Linked DNA regions of Homo sapiens: region 1 is linked to region 2. The links come from fine-mapping of genetic effects on gene expression. A gene starts in region 2. The other region holds a variant in brackets. All regions are shown on one strand. Distances are from middle to middle. Region 1 holds the start of PIEZO1-AS1 (PIEZO1 antisense RNA 1). Region 2 holds the start of PIEZO1 (piezo type mechanosensitive ion channel component 1 (Er blood group)).

Region 1 (8,000 bases), 42 kb before region 2:
GCATGCCTGCAAACACGTGTGTGTGTTGCCCATATGTGGGAGTGAGGGTCGCCCGGGGGCCCTGCCAGGCCGGGTCATGGGGCTTCTAGATCTTTCGGAACGGTATCCTGCAGGTGCCTGGTGCCCCCAGCTCACTCTGAAGTCTGTCCACGCTGGCCGCCCAGGGCGCAGCTGCACACTCAGGCTCCCATCACACCAAGATGAAGATGACCAGAGTCCAGCCACCCAGCCCCTTCCCAGCAGCCAAACTCTAGGAAGCTCATGCCCCATGCCCCCATCAGCATGGAGGGGCTGACGAGGGAGGGGCGGGTCTCTTGGAGGACAGGCAGCAGCACAGTCCTCATGAGCGCTGGACCCCCTCAAATGCCCGGAAAAGCCACTTGACCTCCAGGTCCCCGTTCCCACTTCTGAAATGCGGGCACCAGCCTTGCCCCATGGGGTGGCGACAGGACAGGCAGGAGGGCAGGCCGCCTCTGCAGGCTGAGCAGGTGTACTCGACCTACCGTGTGGCTTGGGGAACCCCTTTCCCTCTCGGGACTCCTCTAGAAGTTGAGGCCCATGTGCGTGGCGAGCATCAGCTATCTGACGAGTGGGCACTGGGAGGGTGAGGTGGGAGGAGGCTGGGTGCCCGGGGCAGGGAGTTCGTGGGCCAGGACACCCAGGTGGCCATAAATCCTGGCTGAGCCTGGGGATGGCAAGTGTGGGCCCAGGCAGGGACGAGAGGGTCTGAGCAGTCAACGTTGGGTGTCGCAGGCCCCAGCTCATGCCCTGTCCGTGTGAGGGGGCCATAGCTCAGAGATTCCCGGGGCCGGACCTCCAAGTCTTGTAGCAGCTAAAGTTCACTCTGCCTCCCACTCCGAGGACAGAGGCCCTGCTTCAGGCCCGTCGCTCCTGGGGTCCAGGCCCCTGCTGGGGCTCTGGGCCGACAGCCTGTTTGCCTGTAAGTGCATGGGGCCTGCTGGGGCCGCCCCTTCTCAGCCCTTCTGCAGTGGCTCTCCAGCCAGACCCACTGCCCAGCACTGCAGGTTTCCACCACCGCGTGGCCCCAAATAATTCCCCTGTGAAGAGTTCCTAAGGGCACAGATGCCATGTCGGGGCGTGGAGGTTTCTGACTAGAGGCAGAGCCCGAGTAGAAACAGGTCTGAACGGATGGAACTGCAGGCTGGGCCCCGGGGTGGGATTTGGAACTTCCTCCTCTCTTTAACACCAACTTACAACCAAAACGTCTACATCTGTTTTAAAAAGATTAAAATAACCCTCAAAATGGCTGAGACCACAGCTCTCGAATGACCTCCCTGACACACGGGTGACGCAGCTGCCCTCACCAGCTCCCGTGGATGTGGGCTCTGCCGGGTGTTCCTTGCAAGGCGCCCGCAGATGCCGAGGCAGACAGAGGAGACCACCAAGATGCCCAGGTCAGGGGCCACCAGCCGGATGGCGTTGGGGATGTCCTTCAGGTCCAGCCTGCGGAGAGCAGGGAGCAGCCGCGGTCAGACCAAGAGGACAGGTGTGGGTGTGAGTGTGGATGGGTCTCCAGGTGCGGGTGGGAGTGTGGATGGGTCTCCAGGTGCGGGTGGGAGTGTGGATGGGTCTCCAGGTGCGGGTGGGAGTGTGGATGGGTCTCCAGGTGCGGGTGAGAGTGTGGATGGGTCTGCAGGTGCGGGTGGGAGTGTGGATGGGTCTCCAGGTGCGGGTGGGAGTGTGGATGGGTCTCCAGGTGCGGGTGAGAGTGTGGATGGGTCTCCAGGTGTGGGTGGGAGCGTGGATGGGTCTCCAGGTGTGGGTGGGAGTGTGGATGAGTCTCCAGGTCCCCCTCTGTCCCTCCTGGGTCCCCCCACTTCCTGGGGCCTGAAATCCCCAAGGGAGGCTTGCTGGTTGGGGGTGGGAGGAATGGTCTTACCTTGTGACCCCTATGTGTCGCGAGAGGGTCTCCCAGCGGCTGCCTGCAGAGAAAGACGGGGGAACCCAGGTCAGGCTCTGCCCAGCCAGCACCGTGGCCTGGTCATCCCTGGAGCGTTTCACCTGGACCATCCAGGCCAGACATAAATCAGGCTGAGTCAACCCCCCCAGGAGACTCGGGGTCACTGCAGGGCCCTCTCCCTGACCCCCAGGATGGCTATCCCTACCCCGCCCCCTCAGCGACTCACAGCTGGGTCCCAGGAGCTGGTCCAGGCGGGGCACAATATGCAGGCAGATCTGGAGGGCGAGATGGGCCACCAGGAAGAGCAGGCTGAGGCCCAGCAATGCCCGCAGGAGGCGGCCTGTGTGACCTGCGGCAGAGCGAGTGGGTGAGGCTGGTCCCGGGGACGGGGAGGGGCCGCAGCCCAGGCCGCTCAGCCGGACAATAGCCCCCAGCCCGGCCAGAGCCCAGAGGCCTGAGATGCAAACCCGCCATGGACTCAGGACCCCATCAGGCAGGCCGGCCAGCCCCACTCCCCACGCCTCCCGAGGGTCACTCTTGTCACAAGGAGCCGGGCATCCTCCTGGGGGTGGCAGCAGGATGGGCCTGGGGCCCACAGGCAGGAAAAGGCCTCCCAGGCTCAGAGGAAACCACCTGGGGTGTGCTCCCTCATCCAGCAAATACCTGTCACCGTTCAGTTGTGGAAGCAGAGGAAATAGACACAAGGAGAGGCAAGAAGCTCCACCTCACCCCAGTGGGGGCTGCAGGTGGATGGAGACCAGAGCATGCGGAGCGCCCCTGAGCAGCCGTGGCTGGGGTGGGAGCAGGGCCATGATGGCTCTGGAGAAAAGTGGGGCAGGCAGCTGCCTCCCTGGGGCTGAGGGGCTGCAAGGAGAAGTTGCATCCCGATGCATGGCCTATGCATGGTACCCAGTCCCCATGGCCACCCTGGCATTTCAGGCACCTGCTGTGCACCAGGTCAGGCCCCAGACCGGCATCCTCTCTCTCTCTGTGCACCCACACCTGGCAGGAAGCGGCAGCACCATCTGGTTGCCTGGCAGCCTTGTCCTGCTCCCAGCTGCCTGTGGCCCCACTGGACTCAGCCCCCCAGCAGGGAGGCCTTCGGCTGCAGGGCAGGGGCTGGGCGGGCGCACCCTGTGGCTGGGGGCACTCAGGAGCCCTGGCTTCACCTCTGCTCTCGGCGCACATGTGGACAGCTCACCCTTCAGCAGGGGTCCGGACCAAAGTCCTTGACCCACCGGGTTCTGAGTCCTGACAGGGCTGTGGACAGCTTCCCTTTCCACCCCGGCACGTGCTGGCAGGAGCTTCCGGGCCCTCACCCTGGGGCAGCAACTCCTGCACCACCAGCCACGCCCGGCCACGAGAAAGTGCAGAACAGCTCAGGCCCTTCTCACAACTTCCTGGAGCTCAGGGACAGGTAGCATCTGGGTCTGGGTCCAAGGTGGTGAATGTCACCACCACATCTGCCCTCTCTCGGCCTCGGGGCGCAAACTCAGGGCCTGTGTCCACTCTGTTCAGTTTTTTGAGCACAAATGGTGTTAGGTGACAGACTCGGGATTGGCCTTGGACACTCAGCCCCCTCTTTCTGGAGCAAAGACTCATGACCCACGTCCAAGTCACCCTGCACATCCCTAAGCCTGACCGTGAAGCAGCCCTCACGGATGCCCAGGACTCCCTGTCCGCACCACCAGGCAGCCGAGGCAGGTTTGGACCAGCTTCTCACACTCACACCTTCCTAGGGTTGCCCCAGGCCCTGACCTGCTGACCCTGCAGCTATGACCTCTGACCTGTGGAGGATGGGAGGGGTGAGCAGCAGGGAGAGTGGGAAGGAGGAATGGAAAACCGTCCAGGAAGGGAGGCTGCAGCCCCGACACGAACAGGAGCCACCACCAGGGGGTGCTGTGCAGGGCTCCCGGAGGACAGGACCTTCCAGGGCCTCCCTGCCCCGAACCCATAGGTGCCAGGCTTCTCACTGCTCACGACCTCCGTGCCGGGCTCATACCTGCCGCGCCAGCCCCTCTTCAGCAGAGCACAAGTCTGGCAGCAGGAGGGCACCAGCCAGGGGCCCCGCGCCCCCGCCTCTGTACAGCAGGGTCACCGTGGGGTGACATGAGAACACCGACCCAGGGAATGGGCTCCTGCCACACCTGCCTGGGAACCTGGGCTGTGAGTCCTGCTCGCTGCACCCTCTAGCCTGACGTTGAAGTAACCTCGCCAGCGGGGCCCTCTGTGGCACTGGGCACTCAGGGAGAGCACGTGGCATTGGAGAAGGTATTCTGAGTCCTACAGAGAGGGACCTGCGGGGCCTGCCCCACAGGCACGTGGGGCTCCTGCTGGGGCTGTCAAGGACCCCCGGGCACTGAGAGGACATCTGGGCCCTTGGGCAGCCAGGCTGACGGGTTCCCTGCACACACGATCCAGCAGCCCGGGAAGGAACTGCCTGACCAGAGACCCCTGGGCAGGGAGGGGCTCTCAGGCCACCTGGCTCCCGCCCACCCGCCTTGCCCTGCACGACAGTCCAGGATGTCCGTCTCTGGCTACATCTCGGATGTCACTGCTTCCCCATTGTCTTCCTCCCTCCCCTTTCCCTGCCTCCTTCCCGGTTCAGTTCTCGGGCCGGCCAGAGTGTCCTGGTCTGGCCATGTTAGAACAGCTGGGCCATGATCCCTCC[G/C]CAGGGTCGAAGGGGCCGCAGCTGGGCCTGGAGGCCACTCCTGGCCACGTGGCACGCCCGCTCCCTGCCTGGGCTGGATCAGACTAGGGAGCTGAGAGTCCGAGGGGCACCCCGGGAAGAGACGCTGCTGGAGATGGGAGGGGGCCGGAACGTGCAGAGGGATCGAGGCTCTGCTGACCTGCACGGGGCGGGGAGCGGGGAGGTGCACACAGAGGCCGAGGGGGCACCCTGACACCGGCCCTCTTCTCCGACGCAAACAGCATGACCTCAAGGGGTCGGGTGGCTTTCTCGTGCCTCCACCTGCAGCCCCTGTCCCCGCCCACCCCGTCACTCTCCCCCTGCAGGTCCCACCCCCAAATGCAAAGCTGGGAAAACCAGGCTGAGCCGGGGATCAGGCCACCTCCGCAGGGACCCACTGCTGCCTCTTCCAGGAGCCCAGGAGACCCAGTGGGTCTCCTGCCCCCGACTCCAACTCCCTCCTGGCAGGACACACCCAGCTCACAGTGGCCTTTCCATCCTGGGAAAGGGAGTGAGAGGAGGCTCAGGCCAGGGACCCGCCCAGCTCTGGCCGGCAACCGCCCTTCAGCCTTTCCTGAACCACTGTGTGGGCCCCAACCCATCCGCTGCCTGCCGGAGGGAGCCCATGGGGAATGGACTATTCTTGCCACCCCTATCCATGGCAGGGGAGGGGCTCAGCATGGCTCTTGCCCACCCAGAAGAAGGTGCAGGGGGCCTGGCGTGGTGGTTCACACCTTTGGGAGGCCGAGGTGGGTGGATCACCTCAGGTCAGGAGTTTGAGACCAGCCTGGCCAACATGGTGAAACCCTGTTTCTACTGAAAATACAAAAATTAGCCAGGCGTGGTGATGGGCACCTGTAATCTCAGCTACTCAGGAGGCTGAGGCAGGAGAATCACTTTCACTTAAACCCAGGAGGCGGAGGTTGCAGTGAGTTGAGATCGCGCCACTGCACTCCAGCCTGGGCAACAGAACAAGACTCCGTCTCAAAAAAAAAAAAAAAAAAAGGGGCCGGGGCTCCCCCTCCAGCTTGCAGGGCTCTCAGGAGGAAACAGGAAGGGGCGGGGAGGCCCCAGGGTATTGCAGACCGGATGGTTGACAGAGCATGGACCTCCCCCAGAGCCGGAGCCCTTGGACCCCGGCACGGCCTGCAAAGGCTGAGGGGCCCCACCACGGCAGCATCCTGATGCGTGGTCCATAGCCACCATCCCCACACCTGCCGGACAAGGGCTGGGCCTGATTGTTCTGTGGGGAGTGTGGAGTTGCCCTGAGTCTGATCCGTGGGGTGTGCATGGGAGCCCCCTGGAACCTGATCCATGGGGTGTGCATGGGACCAGCCAAGGGACCCAGGGTGCCTTGAGGCTGAGCCATGAGGCCCACCCAGCGACAGCTAGGGCTGAGCTGCGGGGTAGGGCCACGAGAGGGGCCTTTTGAGACAGAGGATGGAGACTACACAAGGCTGGCAGAGCCGGGGGACCAGTGAAGCTGGAGAGGGTGGCAGGGCCTCCCTGCACGGGGCATGGTAAGAGGTGGGGGGTGATCTCTCTCCAGACAGCAGGGTCAGTCTTGGAGGTGGGTTTTATCCTAAGGCAGGATGGGGCTTCTGAGTCCCTAAATGACAAGCAGGTCTCTGGGAGCCACCCCCTGTGGCTCTGCCTGCAGCCCTGCCTGGAGCACCAGGGTCTGTTCCCTCTGCCCCAGCCCCAGCCCCTACCCCTCTCCTCCCTGTTCAGTCTGAGCTCAACCTCCAGCCCCCCAAGGATCAGGCTGACGCCTACAAGGGGACCAAGGCTCAGATGGCGTCAGAGCTTCCACCAGGGCCACGCCAAGCCCAGCAGCTGCACAAATCATAAAGCCCCGGGCACTCGGCTCGGGCAAGCCTCACACTTTCCTCTCTCCCTCCCGGAAAACTGGGCAGCATCTCCGTCTCTGAAGGGCCTCTGACGAGGCTCAGGCAGGGAAGTCCTCCCGGGTCCTCTCCAAATCTTCCCACCCCAGCTCCTCCCCTGGCCTGGCTGGGCGCCTGCCTTCCCCCACTGCTGATTAAAGGAAAGTGTTTCCAATTGCGCCCTGGGCATGAAATATTTACGGAACAAACGGCGAAACGCCAGGGGCCTGGGAACAGACAGAACCGGCTCCACAGAGCAAAGGGGAGGCCCAGGATAGGGACCGGGAGTGGGGGTGCCCACCCACCCCAGCCATGCATCCTGGAGGGGTTTGGGCCTCGGGCCCCAGCGACTCCCAGCACTCGGCCGCACTGGGCCCCTCCCAAAATGCCTCTCTGCACCCCTGAATTCTACCCATGATCCAAGATCAGTGCCTGCGCTGGGCACAGTGACTCACACCTGTAATCTCAGCACTTTGGTAGGCTAAGGCAGGAGGATCGCTTGAGCCCAGGAGGTGGAGGCTGCAGTGAGCCATGATCATGCCACTGCTCTCCAGCCTGGGCAACCAAGCAAGACCCCCACTCGAAAAAAAAAAAAAAAGCCAAGCACGGTAGCTCATGCCTGTAGTCTCGGCCGAGGTGGGCAGATCACCTGAGGTCAGGAGTTCAAGACCAGCCTGGCCAACATGGTAAAACCCCTGTCTCTACAAAAACACAAAAATTAGCCAGGCATGATGGTGGGCGCCTGTAATCCCAGCTACTCGGGAGGCCGAGGCGGGAGAATCGCTTGAACCCGCGAGGCGGAGGTTGCAGTGAGCCCAGATCGTGCCATTGCACTCCAGCCTGGGTGACAGAGTGAGACTCCATCTCAAAAAAAATAAATAAAAAAGACCATTGCCCACCCCACAGCACCACGAGCTAGGAGGAGCCTCTGGGATGCTTCCAGCCAGATGTCGCGAGGCCGGAGAGCGACCTTCCACCTGCAGCTGGCAGAACGATGGACCCCAATGATGCCTGCACCCCAGTCCCCAGAATCTGTGAACGCAGAAGCTCACATGCAGAGGCGAGTCCAGGCAGCAGAGGAAATGGGGGCTGCCCAACAGCTGACCTTAAACCAGGGAAGTCGGCCTGGATTAGCCGGGGAGGCAGATGGGACGAAGCCACAGGGTTACCGCAGGGGAGAGGGAGCAGGAGAGACAGGGTGTGATCCTGACCCCACCCCACCGGCTCTGGAGATGGAGGGAGGGGCCCCAAGCCCAGGAAGGTAGGCACCTGGAGCAGCTGGAAGAGGAAGCAGATCCTCCCCAGAGTCCCCTGGAAAAACGCAGCCCGGTGGACACCTCGTAGCCATGGACAGGCCCCGACGCTGCCAGCCTGATGCGTCCAGCACCTCCCAGAAGGGCGGCACCCAAGAGCCTGTCTCCACAGTCACGCCCCCTGGTCCTGCTTGGCCTCCTCTCTGCCCTCTGCTGGGGAAGGTCTCTTGCTGCCTACACTTGCCCTCCCT
Region 2 (9,417 bases):
ATGAGGCCGTCAAGGCCCACGGTGGTTCCCCTTCATCTTTGAGCACCGAAAGCAAATGCACTGCCGAGTCAGCACAGGAGAGACACCGCCCAGGAAGCTGCCTTGGGGCCAGGATCAGAGACTGTGCGCCCCCACCCACCCCCAGAGGAAACTTCCTCTCTGTGGGACCCTGGCAGCTGGGGCTGGAGCTCCCTGTGTCCTGGGCACCAGTGACCCGCTGCGGGACGAGCACCCGCTGTGACCCATCCTCAGCTCCTGGGCAGTCCCTGGCCCCTTCCCCAAACACGCACACATGTGCACACTCACACCTGCAGCCCTTGGTGCTGTGAGGCAGGCCCCAGGCTCTCCTGCTGACTCATCCAGCCTCCAGGCCCAGCATGGGGACAGAGTGCGCCCCTCTGTCACACCAGGGAGCTGATGCTCAGAAGGGGCCCCCAAGCCACAGAGGAAAGCAGCTCCCACCCTACTCTGCCACGGCCATGCTCTTCCCAGCACCCTCGGATGGGACAGGCCAGGGTTCTGTGCAGGTCCTGAGACCCGGGCACAGGCCTCCGAAGGGTGACTCTGCCATGCTCAGCTCAGAGGGTCTGCACTGCTGAGCAACTGTGAGCCGAGTGCCTGCTGTTCCCCAGCTTCTCGGCCGCCTCCCAGGAGTGGTGAGACCCTGATGGTGACAATGTTCTGAAAAAGGAGGCAGCATCCCTCATGCTAAATGGTGACACTTCTCAGTGACAATCAGCCTGAAGGAGGTGACGCCCAGCTTGCCGGCCGTGGGTGTGCCCCTAGGCTGTGCCACGAGGCACCCTGAAAAGCAGAAGCCATATTGTCAGCCCACGTGGGTGTCCCACAGTCAGTGACACGGTGGCTCCTCTCGCACCAGCTGGCTTTCCGCAGCCCTGTCTAGATTTCCCACTGATAGAACTGGAGGTGCGGTCCCATATTATCAGAATCACAAATGTCCTGCCCTTTTTTTTCCTTTTTCTTTTTTGAGACAGGGTCTGTCACCCAGGCTGGAGTGCAGTCATACAATCATGGCTCACTGTAGCCTCCAACTCCTGGACTCAAACAATCATCCCACCTTGGCCTCCTGAGTAGCTGGGACTACAGGTGCACTACCACCATGCCCAGCTAATTTTTAAATATTTTTCATAGAGATGGGGATCTCTACGTTGCCCAGGCTGCTCTCGAATGGCTACGCTCAAGCAATCCTCCCACCTTGGCCTCCCGAAGCTCTGGGATTACAGGTGTGAGCCATCGCGCCCAGCCCTGCCCTGACATCTCTCTAGAAGAGATGGGCCCTGATCCCCCAAGGCTCCAGCAACATTAGGTGAGACTGCTGAAGGAGGCCCCTGCTCCCTGTGGGTGGGGCAGCTCCCTGCCAGATTTTTGGGTAATGATCCTGCACTGGAGAGGGAGGGCGTGGGGGCCAGGGGCACCCCAGGATGACTCAAACCCTCACCAGGCACTGTCTGAGCCAGCGCAGGCACACACTGACTAATGCCTTCTGAAGGCCTCATTCATTTCCAAAACACGGTAGAACTGCTTCCAGCCAAAGCTCGCCAGAGAGGGAGGGGGCACTCCAAAGACAGCAAAGCCAGTGTCCCACCTCCGGCCAGGCCAGCTGAACCTGCACATCGCGGGTCCATCTGGAGCTGCCCACACCCCAGGGCCAGAGAGCCTGACTCAGGAGTCCCGGCCAGCAGGCAGGCAGGCAGGGTTCTTGGCCGGCTCCACTTCCATCTCCCCCAGGTGACTGAGAGAAAACACTGAGTGAGGCCCAGGCCCCACGCCCCATCCCCAGACACAGAATCAGTGTGGGGTATGGCCCGGGCTTCAGCATCTTTCAAATTAAGAGACTTTATTTGGGACCAGTTTTAGGTTTAAGGAAAGTACCATACAGACAGACAGTCAGTCATCACTATTCTTTAAAAGTTTCATAGAAGACTGACACGGGGCCTGGGTGAGCACCCCTGGGCTACCTCCCCATCCTCCCCAAGGAGGCCAAAAGCAAGAAGAACAGTGATCCCTCCCCCAGATCCCCCACGCGGATAGCAATCGAGAAGGCAGAACCCAGGCCCCCTGACCAATGCCCAGGGGGCAGCAAACCACATGTGCCACAGAATCGGGCTCAACACCTGTTTAGGTACAGCCCATGAACTCAGGAGGGCTTTTACATTTAATGGCTGGAAAAATACCAGAAGAAGAAGATTTTGTGACATGAAAATATTTACCATCTGGTCATTTAAAGAAAAACATTGCCAACTCTGCCCAAGGAGCAGCTGCCATCTGAGAGGGGGGGCATTCCCTGCAGGGAGGACACCCGCTCCCACTCAGACACAAGAGGAAATGGAACGATCAGTGTGAACGGGACGTTTCAGAAGCTTTCCTGTTTCCCTCTCTAAGGCCTGTCAGCTCTAGACTCTGCCTCTGTGCCAGGCTGTCCTGCTTGTTTTCAAGGCACAGGAAGGAACACAGCCGGGCCCTGTTTACGGCCCATCTGACCCTGCACTGGGAGCAGGTCCCAGGCTGCCCAGTCCACACAGGGCTGACCGCACTGAAGAGAGTTGCTCAAAACCTCTCCTCTCCAGCCTCAATGGTTTTCATTGATTCCTGTCTAGAAAATCTTCCCCAAGTTTCACCACCTTTCTGTGCGACCGATCAAAACGCAGTCTGTCTGGGAGCCTCAGGCAGGCGGCTCTAGATCCCCAAAGCTAGCGCTGGGCGAGCTCCCACCTGGAGCGAGGCAAGGGCTCCGAAAGGGCTTTTACAATCAAAAGGCCCCACCTGCCGTGTCCATGGCGGACTCCCAATGCAAACCGTCCCACTTGTCCGTGGGTTAATTCCATCCGACTGCTTCCCAGATCAATCACACGTGGGGAGCCCCCGGGCGGAGGGCGCGGACCCTGGGTCCCGGCTAGGCCAGGGTCGGGGAAGGGTAGGGGTGCCAGGCCGTGCAGCACCAAGCCACCCGGGTGTGCTTCGCGAAAGGGGCACCACTGCCCGGCAAGCAGGGAACACAGATGCCAGGACTGGGGACCCCTGCCCCGCCCTGACACCAGGCCACAGCCTCCGGGGGTGTCCCCTCCCCCAGACCAGGGCAGAGGCCGGCCCCCGCCCCTGCGAAACTGAGCCCAGTAGGGCAAGGGAGGACCAGGGAGGAACCCACACTATTTTTTTCCAAAGTGTGGGACCGCCTCAGTCCGGCAGAGGGGGGTGCAGCGGTGAGCGGGGCTGGGCCCTGGGCACGGACGTTCGTTGGGCTCGGGAAGCTCCAAATTAAACAGCTCCAGGCAGGAAGCCCGCCTTCTCCCAGATTGTCAGGAAGTCCTGATGCAACTTTGCGCTTTTTTTTTTAAACCCGAAAGAGAAAAAGAGATTCGTGCTCCCCCCACCACCGCCGCGGCCCTTCCCACCGGGGCAAACACCGCCTCGCCCGGCGGCCTCCTCTCCGCAGCGCCCCGGCGGAGACGCCAGCCGCGCTATGCCCGGCGCTCGCTCGACCGCCCCCGTGGGCACGCGGTGCCGTCTCCCCCAGCCGCCGCCGCCCTTCCAGCCCGGCCCTGGGACAGGAGCCCCGCCGCCGCCTGGCGCGCTCATGCTTCAGGAATGCGGGCGCCCGGGTCGCGCGTCCCTGGGAATTTCCGCGCCCGCTCGCCCGCAGCCCTCGCCCCGGCCGGCGTCGTCCGGTGTCCAGGCCGTGGGGAGCCGAGACGCAGCCCCCTCCCGTCGCCCCCAGGCGCCCGCCCCCCACTCACCAGCCAGCAGCGCGCAGGGCAGCAGCAGCCAGTACAGGACCGCGCCGAGCACGTGCGGCTCCATGGCTGGAGGGCCCAGGGCCCGGCCCAGACCGAGCGGACGCCGCGGCGCTATGGGGCGGTGCGGGGGCCCCGGGGCCGGCGCGCCATGGCTGACCCGCGGGGACCCGCGCGCCGCCTTCTCCTCTTCCTCCTTCTCCTTCGGCCGCCCCGCCGGTGCCGACGTCCCGGGCCCGCGCTCGCTCAGGCGACCGCCCTGCCCCTCGGCGGAGCGCAGCGCTCGGCTCACTGGGGCCGAGCTGGGCCGGACGGCGGCTCCCGCCCTCCTCCGCCCGCGGGCCTTTATAAGCTCGGCCCCCTCCCGCCCTCCCCGGCGTGCCCGCCTCCGCGCTTCCCCGACGGCCCGGCGCGCCCAGGCACCCCCTCCGCTGTCCCGCGCGGCCCGTCCCGCCTCCGGCCCGCCCTGGTGCGTTGGGGCCTGGAGACCCCCGACTGGCGCTGGCCCGGAGCGGACCCCTCCCCTCCCGCAGTCTTGGCCCCGCGGCTCCGAGCGTGCGCGGCGGTGGGCAGGGGCGCTTCTCGCTGGGTGGGCTGCGGCTGGGGCCCGGGCGCTACATAAGGGGTCCCGGGGCCTCTGGCTCCCCCAGGCAGCGCCCCACGCGCAACTGCACCCCGCGTGCCCGAGCGACTTTCGCTTTGCTCCCCGAGGCGCGAGCACGCAGCGCCCCCTGGGGACCGTGGGGAGGCTCGGAGTTCCCGCGGCGGCCGGGCCTAGTGGTCCCGGAGGGAGCACGCGGGATGCTCGGGTCGCAGCAGTGCCGCGATCCGCGTTGGTCTGACGGGGGCTCGGGGGCTGCTCCCAGCCACGCCGGCCACCGCGCGCGGCTTTGCCCGGGTCGCTCTGGCGTGAGACGGTGAGAGTGAGAGCCACGGCCTGTGCACCTGCTGCCGCGGCGCCCTGCCACGGAGAGGTAGGGTCTGAGTCCAGGGTGTTCGGGACCCTCACCCAGGCCACGTCAGTTTGGCCTTCGTCTGCCCTTGAGATGGGCACAGAAAGAGGGCAAAGGGCTCTACACCGTTTAATTGGGCTCAGTTCATGGCTCTCAAACTCAGCTGCGTAAGGCAGGGAGTGGGGCTGGGGGGACTGTGGCCACTGAGCCTCAAGGCACTGGCAACTCATGAGAGCCCAGCACAAGCCCACACCCTCCAGCTCAAAAAAAAAAAAAAAAAAAAAAGATGGCGGGGCAGTGGCTCAGGCCTGTAATCCCAGCACTTTGCGGGGCTGAGGCAAGGGGGTAGGGGGTCGGGGGATCACTTGACGTCAGGAGTTCGAGACCAGCCTGGCCAACATGGTGAAACCCCGTCTCTACTAAAAATACAAAAATTAGGCCGGGCGCGGTGGCTCACGCCTGTAATCCCAGCACTTTGGGAGGCCGAGGCGGGTGGATCACCAGGTCAGGAGATCGAGACCATCCTGGCTAACACGGTGAAAACCCATCTCTACTAAAAACATAAAAAATTAGCCGGGCGTGGTGGCGGGCTCCTGTAGTCCCAACTACTCGGGAGGCTGAGGCAGGAGAATGGCATCAACCCAGGAGGCGGAGCTTGCAGTGAGCCGAGATAGCGCCACTGCACTCCAGCCTGGGCGACAGAGCCAGACTCCGTCTCAATAAATAAATAAATAAATAAATAAATAAATAAATAAATATACAAAAATTAGCCGGGCGTGATGGCAGGCGCCTGTATTCCCAACTACTCAGGAGGCCGAGGCAGGAAAATCGCTTGAACCTGGGAGGCAGAGGTTGCCGTGAGCCGAGATCATGCCATTGCACTCCAGCCTGAGTGACAAGAACGAAACTCCATTAAAAAAAAAAAAACCACCCAGAAATGGAGATTTTCATGGGAAGTCTAGTGTTTAAAGGCTGATATAGGCCGGGTGCGGTGGCTCACGCCTGTAATCCCAGCACTTTTGGAGGCCGAGGCGGGTGGATCACGAGGTCAGCAGATGGAGACCATCCTGGCTAACACGGTGAAACCCCATCTCTACTAAAAATACAAAAAATTAGCCGGGCGCGGTGGCGGGCGCCTGTAGTCCCAGCTACTCGGAAGGCTGAGGCAGGAGAATGGCGTGAACCCGGGAGGCGGAGCTTGCAGTGAGCCGAGATCACCCCACTGCACTCCAGCCTGGGCAACAGAATGAGACTCCATCTCAAAGAAGAAAAAAAAAAAAGGCTGATTTACTTTCTCTGCAAGTCTCACCCTCTGGTCAGGCTTTGAAAAGTTGCTGCAGAGGTGGGGAAGTCTGGGAGCTTGCCCTGCAGATGGACTTGCAAAGGTAGAGGATGTATGTGTCCTAGAATTGTTCAAGCAGCAAAAAGCAGAAAAACTCTGCCCACAGAAGCTTGTCAAATAAATGATAGCGTGTCTCACAGTGGAGTGCTACACAGCAGGTAAAAAACAGAATCCGGCTAGGTGTTTTGTATCAACATGAAGCTAAGATACAATGGCACTCTGTAGCAGCGGTTAGAGAGAATCCCGCAATTGCTCTGTTATCAAGGAGGAACAATTGCTAAGTTACAGTGCTAACAATTGGGAAAAGCAAGCAGCTACACTCAGGGCCACGCTCACCCACTTGGGGTGGGAGGGAGACCTGGTCTTCACCTATACCCTTTGGTGCTGTTTTAATATTTTGCTTCATACATAATTCACTTATTCACAAAATAAAATTAGCAAAATGGAGACAAATACTCTGAAAAAGATCTCTGCTTGCCAGCCAGGGAGAGGTGGGGCGGGCAAGGGCAGGGGAGCCCACCTGTGCCCAGTTCACTGCCCGTTCAGGAATTTGGACCGTGTTCTAACTCAACCCCTGTTGCAGAAGAGGACGCTAAGGGCCAGAGCGGGATAACCATTTGCCAAAGGAATAGACCGGCCTTTGCACCCAGCTTTCCAGATTCCAAGTCCAAAGTCACTCCTGTCCCACTGACCCACAGCTGGGAGCCCTTTCTCAACTTGCTGTTGCTTTTTATTTTTGTCACTGTTTAAAACAGTGATTTATTTTTTATTTTATTGTATTTTCTTGAGACAAAGTCTGCCACTGTTGTCCAGGCTGGAGTGCAGTGGAGCAATCTCGGCTCACTGCACCCTCCGCCTCCTGAGTTCTAGTGATTCTCCTGCCTCAACCTCCCAAGTAGCTGGGATCACAGGCGTGTGCCACCACACCTGGCCAACTTTTGTATTTTTAGTAGAGATGGGATTTCAAAATGTTGGCCAGGTCTTGAACTCCTGACCTCAAATGATCCGCCTGCCTTGACCTCCCAAACTGCTGGGATTACAGGTGTGAGCCACCATGCCCGGCCAGTGACTTAGTCTTGGGAGAGCAACAATGGTCAGGTCCCCTTGGGAGAGAGGAAAAGCCAGGGCAAGAGGGGTCACAGGGACTTTAAGCTTTATCATGCAGGTTGTAACTTTTTCCCCAATGATAACATAGTCACCATTACTTGTCTATACTTAAAAATTAATTTCAGGCTGGGTGTGGTGGCTCACGTCTGTAATCCCAACACTTTGGGGGCCTAAGGCAGGAGAATGGCTTGTGGCCAGGAGTTGGAGACCAGCCTGGACAACACAGCAAGACCCCATCTATACAAAAAATAAAAATTAGCCAGGCATGCCAGGCAGGCATGGTGCCTCATGCCTGTAATCCCAGCACTTTGGGAGGCTGAGGCGGGTGGATCACAGGGTCAGGAGTTCGAGACCAGCCTGGCCAACATGGTGAAACCCTGTCTCTACTAAAATACAAAAATTAGCCAGGCGTGGCAGCAGGCACCTGTAATCCCAGCTACTCGGGAAGCTGAGGCAGAATCGCTTGAACCCGGGAGGCAGAGGTTGCAGTGAGCCAAGACCATGCCATTACACTCCAGCCTGGGTGACAGAGCGAGACTCCGCCTCAAAAAAAAAAAAAATTAGCCAGATGTGGTGGTGCCTGCCTGTGGTCCCGGCTACTTAGGAGGCTGAGGTGGGAGGATCTCTAGAGCCCAGGAGGTGGAGGCTGCAGTGAGTAGTGATGGCGCCACTGCACTCCGGCCTGGACAACAGGCCAAGACCCTGTCTCAAAAATAATAATAATTTTGGCCGGGCACTGTGGCTCACACCTGCAACACCAGCACTTTGGGAGGCTGAGGTGGGTGGATCACTTGAGGTCAGGGGTTCAAGACCAGCCTGGCCAACATGGTGAAACCCTGTCTCTACTAAAAATACAAAAATTAGCCGGGCATGGTAGCGCATGCCTGTGGTTCCAGCTACTCGGGAGGCTGAGGCGGGAGAATCGCTTGATCCCAGGAGGTGGAGATTGCAGTGAGCTGAGATCATGCCACTGCACTCCTGCCTGGGTGAAAGAGCAAGACCCTGTCTCAAAAAAAGTAATAAAATAAATAATAATTTCAAGAGGCAGCAACCCCAGAGTCTGTTAATGGAGTGTAGAAACAAAATGTGGTCTGTTCATACAATCTGATATTATTTGTCCATAAAAAGAAATGAAACTCTGATGTACGCTACAACAGGGATGAACTTGTGTGTGTGTGTGTGAGACAGGGTCCCGCTCTGTCACCCAGGCTACCAGGCTAGATTGCAGTGGTGCAATCATGGCTCCCTGTAACCTGGACCTCAGGCTCAAGGAAGCCTCCCACCTCAGCCTCCCAAGTAACTGGAACTACAGGCATGCACTGCCACACCCAGCCAATTTTTTTTCCCATAGAGATGGGGTCTTGCTATATTGCCCACGCTGGTCTCAAACTCCCAGGCTCAAGCGATCCTCCTGCCTTGGCCTCCCAAGGTGCTGGGATCACAGGTGTGAGCCACCGCGCCAGCACGGGGCTGGGGGACGTGGAGGGAAGGGAGCCAGGCACAGAAGGAAGACACCATGTGGCTCTGTGTACGTGAAATGTCTATGGAGACAGACAGCAGAGGGTGGTTACCAGGCCAGAGGGGGAAGTGGGCAGCTGTTGTTTAACAGTGGCAGAGTTTCTCTTTGGGGTGATAAAAAGGTTCTGGAAATAGTAGTGTTGACACAACATTGTAAATGTGCTTAATGCCTCCAAATTGGACACTTAAAAATGATTTAAAAGGTACATTTATATTATGTACTTTGACCATGATAGACAATTTTAAGAAATATGTACGTGGTTAAAACAATTTTCAGGCTGGGTGCAGTGGCTCGTGCCTGTAATCCCAGCACTTTGGGAGGCCGAGGTGGGAGGATCACCTGAGGTGGCGAGTTCGAGACCAGCCTGGCCAACATGGCAAAACCTCATCTCAAATAAAACTACAAAATTAGCTGGGCGTAGTGGCGCATGCCTGTAATCCCAGCTACTCGGGAGGCTGAGGCAGGAGAATTGCTTGAACCCAGGAGGCGGAGGTTGCAGTGAGTCGAGATCGTGCCATTGCACTCCAGCCTGGGTAACAAGAGTGAAACTCCATCTCAAAAACAAAAACAAACAAGAAACGATTTTCAAGCAGTGGACTCTATGCCTCCCTCGCAGCCAGGATCCCTCCCCAGAGGCAACCACAGTCTCTGTGTCTTCCACATACTGCTTTCCTGACTCCTTGTCAGGGACTGTGAGATTCGGGAACTTCTTGTTTTATTTCCCTGAGTGAATTCCCATTGGGT

Evidence for each region.
Region 1: its variant is fine-mapped to the expression of PIEZO1 in pancreas (GTEx, PIP 0.92).

The regions. Positions count from the first base shown.
Region 1 is chr16:88,740,153-88,748,152 of GRCh38, forward strand. It overlaps PIEZO1 (piezo type mechanosensitive ion channel component 1 (Er blood group)), which reads right to left. Exons shown (of 51, transcript NM_001142864.4): 3 at 2,148-2,270; 4 at 1,901-1,943; 5 at 1,326-1,464. It overlaps HSALR1 (HSP90AB1 associated lncRNA 1), which reads left to right. Exons shown (of 3, transcript NR_103774.1): 3 at 1-1,273. It overlaps PIEZO1-AS1 (PIEZO1 antisense RNA 1), which reads left to right and starts at 2,615. Exons shown (of 3, transcript NR_120387.1): 1 at 2,615-3,338; 2 at 3,440-4,192; 3 at 4,937-5,596. RefSeq lists an enhancer at 3,712-4,398 and a silencer at 5,416-5,475. The variant G/C (reference allele first, on the strand shown) is at 4,593.
Region 2 is chr16:88,781,146-88,790,562 of GRCh38, forward strand. PIEZO1 (piezo type mechanosensitive ion channel component 1 (Er blood group)) reads right to left here and starts at 4,075. Exons shown (of 51, transcript NM_001142864.4): 1 at 3,756-4,075. The coding sequence starts at 3,819. RefSeq lists enhancers at 34-163, 204-343, 364-733, 744-823, 3,306-4,219 and 1 more and silencers at 2,904-3,223, 3,724-4,203, 4,244-4,573.